Regions from separate parts of the Homo sapiens genome. Here region 1 is linked to region 2. Evidence: fine-mapped expression QTL. Tissue or cell type: skeletal muscle. Region 2 holds a variant in brackets; the other region holds the start of a gene. All regions are shown on one strand. Distances are between the middles of the regions.

Evidence for each region. PIP is the estimated chance that this variant, and not a neighbour inherited with it, causes the effect.
Region 1: it holds the start of CDCP1, and the variant in region 2 is fine-mapped to the expression of CDCP1 in skeletal muscle (GTEx, PIP 0.96).

What each region holds. Positions count from the first base shown.
Region 1 is chr3:45,145,283-45,147,963 of GRCh38, reverse strand. CDCP1 (CUB domain containing protein 1) reads left to right here and starts at 1,586. Exons shown (of 9, transcript NM_022842.5): 1 at 1,586-1,758. The coding sequence starts at 1,677.
Region 2 is chr3:45,086,482-45,089,162 of GRCh38, reverse strand. It overlaps CDCP1 (CUB domain containing protein 1), which reads left to right. Exons shown (of 9, transcript NM_022842.5): 8 at 22-109. Among named protein-coding and RNA genes, the nearest start is that of CDCP1, 59 kb to the left of the region's middle. The variant G/A (reference allele first, on the strand shown) is at 1,210.

The sequences.
Region 1 (2,681 bases), 59 kb before region 2:
CTAGTACTGTTGTGGGTATTACTGTATGTGGGAAACAATGGTGTCATGGATGTTAGGAAAAGATGCTGGGATATATATGCCTGCTTAGAATCAGGAGAAAAGACAAATCTCCTTTCACCCTCCTGGTCAGCATAAATATTTTTAAAGATTGTTTAGATTTTTGTCAAGATTTCTTTCTCTTGATGAATTTGTCCTCGATTCAGTGGGGAGAACCAAGAGCCTCTCTTCGTTTCTCATCCTCTCCCTTCCCTCTAGTTCTCAGTTTTCCCATTTTTCTGCACAAGGACAGAAGTGGACTAGAAGATTACATCTAAGGTCCCGTTTAGCTCACGATACAGGCCCTCCCAGAGGTGGGGGTGTGGGCAGGGTCATGTTCCAAGTTCTGCCTCCCTCGATGGACTGTGGGCTCCCAGAGGGCAGAGCTAGCTCTATTCTCATGATTAAGGACATCGAGAAGGAAGGGGTGACGCTCCTAGGAGATGATTTCCCACCCCTGTCCACAAGGAGGATTGGGGCAGCCTGGAGAGGCTCAGTGCCCGCAAGAATTAAGCAGAAGTTGGGACTGGACTGTAAACTGATGCTGTCGCACATGCTTTGGTTCCTGTCCCAAGCCTCCCAGGTTGCTCCGGGTGACTCTGGCCCAGCTTCTGGCTATCCATGAACACAAGTAGTCCCAGGGAGTCATTCTGGCAGAACCCAGGTCTGCTAGCTAAGAACTCCTGAACCATCCGCAATCTCTGCCTGTGGCCTGGACTTGGTGTATGGCCGGCAGGGTGGAAGGAGAACCCACAGGGCCTCTGAAGACAGGCAGGTGGCACACCTGCGGCTGGGAGGATTTGGAAAAGGAGTCCAGCGCCATTCATTTTTCATTCATTTTCCAGCCCAACGTTTGACCTGAATGCTTCACGCTCACACTGCACACACTACTCCATTTATAATACAACTCGAGAAGGGCACATACTACTCCATCCACAGCTCAGTGAAGGGATGCATACTACTCTACTCACAATTCAACGAAGTGGTGCATCTGCCTCTAATTTACTAGCTACCCTGGGGACCTTGGACACGTTGCGTGTCTGGAAATACTGCAGGTGATGTGTGTGGAGTAGGCTGCAGGCTCACCGTCCTGCAAATACTAGCTGTACCACCACCGGCTTTAAAGTCCAACAGACCTCTGGCCCAAGTCAAGTAGCAGAGGATCCAGGGCTTGGGTGGCCCACAAATAGGATTCTTCTCCAAAACGAGGCGCATAATGGCCTTTGTCTCCTCGACAGAAAAGGGAAGGTAGACTGGCTTCCTCTATGGGCGACCTTCGCGACTCTGGAGAAAAAGACCTCATCATTCTCAGACTTGGGAAGGAAGACTAAGCCCGGAAAGGTGGGGACAAGTCCGCTCCAACGCCGCAATGGGGAGTAGTAGGGACCCAGCAACCCGGTGCCGGGAGCCCTGCACCCTGGGAGGGAGAGGCGGTCGCTGAGGCAGGAAGAGGAGGAGGAGAGAGAGGAGGGACGCACCGGGTCAGCTCGCGATCCTGCTGCGCAGGGCGGGGCTCGGGCCGGTCCGCCCGCGCGCAGGTGAGTGAGCCAGGGCGGAGCGCAGCTGCGCCGGGCTTGGGCGCCTGGGGCCGCCGCTCCCCACCGTCGTTTTCCCCACCGAGGCCGAGGCGTCCCGGAGTCATGGCCGGCCTGAACTGCGGGGTCTCTATCGCACTGCTAGGGGTTCTGCTGCTGGGTGCGGCGCGCCTGCCGCGCGGGGCAGGTGAGTGCCGGGCTTTGGAGGCGGATGGCGTGGAGTGGTGAGCTAGCCAGCCAGCGGACGCCCGGCGGAGATGCGGCCGAGGGACGCAGGGTGCGGAGGGTGCGGAGGGTGCGGAGAGAGGGCGGGGACGGCGTAGTCAAAATGCGCGGGTGGCTCCGGGACCCCCGGACTGTTCGGTTCCTGCGCGCGCCGCGTCGGGCGCGTGGGCCTTGCCCTCCTGGAGTCAACCTTGCCCTCGGCACGTGAGAGTGTCCCCGATCGGGGAGCCTCCCGGTCCGGGAGGATGAGCCCGGTGCTGGCCGAGAAGGCGGGAAAAGGAGCTCCCGGTAGCCGATCCCAGGCGACATGTCCAAGGTGGCGCGCCGTGCGCCCCAGGGTCTTTGCCGGGATTCTTGAAAGCACCCAGGCAGGGTGTGGGAAGAGATCTTTCCTCTCCAGGCTCGCCCTCTACCTCCTCGCCTGGTCCAGAGAGAAGGTGCAAAAAAAGTGCTTTCACGTCCGCATTTCCCACTAGATCCCCTTTTTCCCGTCCGCACGCTGCATTCCCCCTCTCCTAAAGTTGAAGAGCGTTGGTGCAAAAATGAAAGCGCCCGGATTTCTTTTAGGGGGTCCCAGAGAAAGCCGCCAGGCATCTGCGCCACCGCAGAGACTGGACATTCCCGCGCCCCTCGCACTTTTTGGCAGTGGACTTTGAGGGCAGGAGGCTGTTGTTCCGGGGATATGTGTGAATTTCGAGTTGTTTCGGTTGGGGGAAGGGACCAACACGTCCCAGTGACCTGTGCCAGCCAGGAAATGCCCTGTGGGCCCTGGATGTATTAGAACGTAGTAAATAACCTGGTTTCTTCATGTAAGAACTTGATGTGAGGCTAGTACAGGTTTCGCGAGATTAGTACAGGTTTTGTGTTTTTTAAATAGAGCTCTCC
Region 2 (2,681 bases):
TCTTTATGTCTCTGCTCACAGACTTGACTGTCATCCTCATCGCAGCGGTGGGAGGTGGAGTCTTACTGCTGTCTGCCCTCGGGCTCATCATTTGCTGTGTGAAAAAGAAGTAGGTGGAATCTCTTACTCTCTTTATCTGATTTGATGCCTCCTCAGATCACACAGACTGGGTGGATTGTTCATTATTGACTTTGTTTTCTTGCTTCCCATTTTTTCCCCCAAAGATCAATGTTAAACAATATTGCCAGGTGTGAGTCATGCTTTCAGGAGAAAAAAAATCCCATGCCTGGGGGTGAGGGGGGGATAAAACACACGTGACATTTTCACCTGTATGTAGTTCATGGTGCAGCTGCCTCAGCACAAGTCCCCTGCAAGCAGAGTGCTGTTTGCTCAGTAGATTGATCAAGCAGGAGTGATCTTGGCAAGAAAATGCTCACGTAGGCTCTGCCAGACTGTGCCTCTGAAACCACTCCCTCCGTCACCCTAAGGAGAACGAATGTGTGTTGTCCCAGCTTGTTCTCCTGCAGTTTCTTAAGCAAACTGCTTTATCCTTGCCTGTTGGGCTCCAGGTATGTAACAGAGGCCAGGCCTGTGGCCCAGAGGAAGGAAGGCCCAGTTAACTGCCTCAGTCTCTCTTTCCATCCCCTCAGGAGGACAACTTCTGTTTTATTTATTTATTTATTTATTTTTGAGACAGAGTCTTGCTCTGTTGCCAGTGGTGCAATCTCGGTTCACTGCAGCCTCCGCCTCCTGGGTTGAAGTGATTCTCCTTCCTCAGCCTCCCGAGTAACTGGGACTACAGGCACACACCACCACGCCCAGCTAATTTTTTTTGTATTTTTTTGTAGAAACGGGATTTCACCTTATTGGCCAGATTGGTCTTAAACGCCTGACCTCAAGTGATCCACCCACCTTGGCTTCCCAAAATGTTGGGATTACAGGCATGAGCCACCGTACCTGGCTGAGCTTCTATTTTATAAAAGGAAAATGTTGACCTTTTTAGACAGAGTCCGTGCTGCCGCCAAACTGTATAAATTCTGCTCATATTTCTGACTAAAGTCATGGGAGAGAGAAGAGAGCTATTTTCCTTAACATGGTTTGACCTTCCAAAAAGCCAATCTGAAAAAATTCTTTTTTTTTTTAAGACAGAGTCTCACTCTGTTGCCAGGCTGGAGTGCAGTGGCGCGATCTCGGCTCACCGCAACCTCC[G/A]CCTCCCGGGTTCAAGCGATTCCCCTGCCTCAGCCTCCCGAGTAGCTGGGACTACAGGCACCCGCCACCACGCCCAGCTAATTTTTTTTTGTATTTTTAGTAGACACAGGGTTTCACCATGTTGGCCAGGATGGTCTCGATCTCTTGACCTTGTGATCCACCCGCCTCGGCCTCCCAAAGTGCTGAGATTACAGGCGTGAGCCACCACACCCAGCCAAAAAATTCTTTTTTAAAAATTAACTGTGGACCTGAGCAAAGAACTGAAATTCCTAGTCTACAACAAGACTGTCTACAAATGTCTCTGCTGATGAGGAAGGACTGGCTTGCAGGAGGTCTTTTCCCCATGAGAAGTGGCTGTACCTATAACACATGGGGGAAAAAGGACTGCTTTTAAGGAAACATCATGTTACTGTTTCTCTCAGGGAATTTTCCCATCTGCGGTGCACGGAATAGCCCACCCAGTTGGGGAAGCATGGCATTAACACTGGGCCCCAGGTTCCTTATCAGGAGGGAATTGGACAAGGAACGAGATCCAGCACTTGCCTCATCTTGAAACAGCGCCAGTTTAAGCCTGAGAATCGTCAGTCCAGCCTTGCTACAGGCCTTGCTTGTGTGAGGCTGCTGGCTGGCAGGTTTGCATAAGGCCTGTCCGTGCCCAAGCTGTTGTAGGAGGATGGACAGGTTGTGCAGTGAGAATGAGGAGAGACAATGCCATCTAACATGTTCACTAAGCGGGTACTTCCTGAGTGTCTCCTGGGCACTAGGATTCATTGAGGTACTGGGGACAATGATGAGTGAGACAATCTCTTCTATGGGGGCAGGGGGACTGAAAAGACAGGCAAATAAACAGTCAGTTTCAGGATAGCATGAGAAGAGCTTTAGTGGGGACAAACATTACAGGGCTTCAGGCAGGAGCCTTAGGAACCCATCCTCCTGGCCAGGGGCTCAGCGTTACAAGCTGAAGGTACCAGGTTTATTTTTATCTCAGCAAAGTACAGACAGCCTGTCCACCATTATGAACTGCCAGCCTGTGCCTTATATGGCCCATTACGCTAATTGAGCTAATGTCCTCCATTTGCATCACTGGTCAGCTAAAAAGTCAGCATTCCCTGCTGTTTGGTTCACAAAGATGGAGAGCAAAGCTTTGTTTTCTGTGGCAGCAAGCGCTAATGCCCATGCAGGTCCAAGTACCAAAGAACATTATAAACCAAATGCTAATGGTGTTATTGAAGAACTCTGGCACTGCAGCCTGAATTTTGTCTTCTTTTTAGCTCTTTCCTCTGTTGGGGGTGACTACTGAGGCACTGGGTCTCTCTGCTAATGCTGAGTTATCCTCTCCCCAGCTCATACTGAAAACTAAGATACAACCTGGCCTCCTGAGTCTCTTGTATCGCCATTTAAAATCTAGATGGTCAGAGCTTTTCCCAGGCAAAAGAGAGATAAAGCATGAGCTACGGGAAAGTACTAAGAGT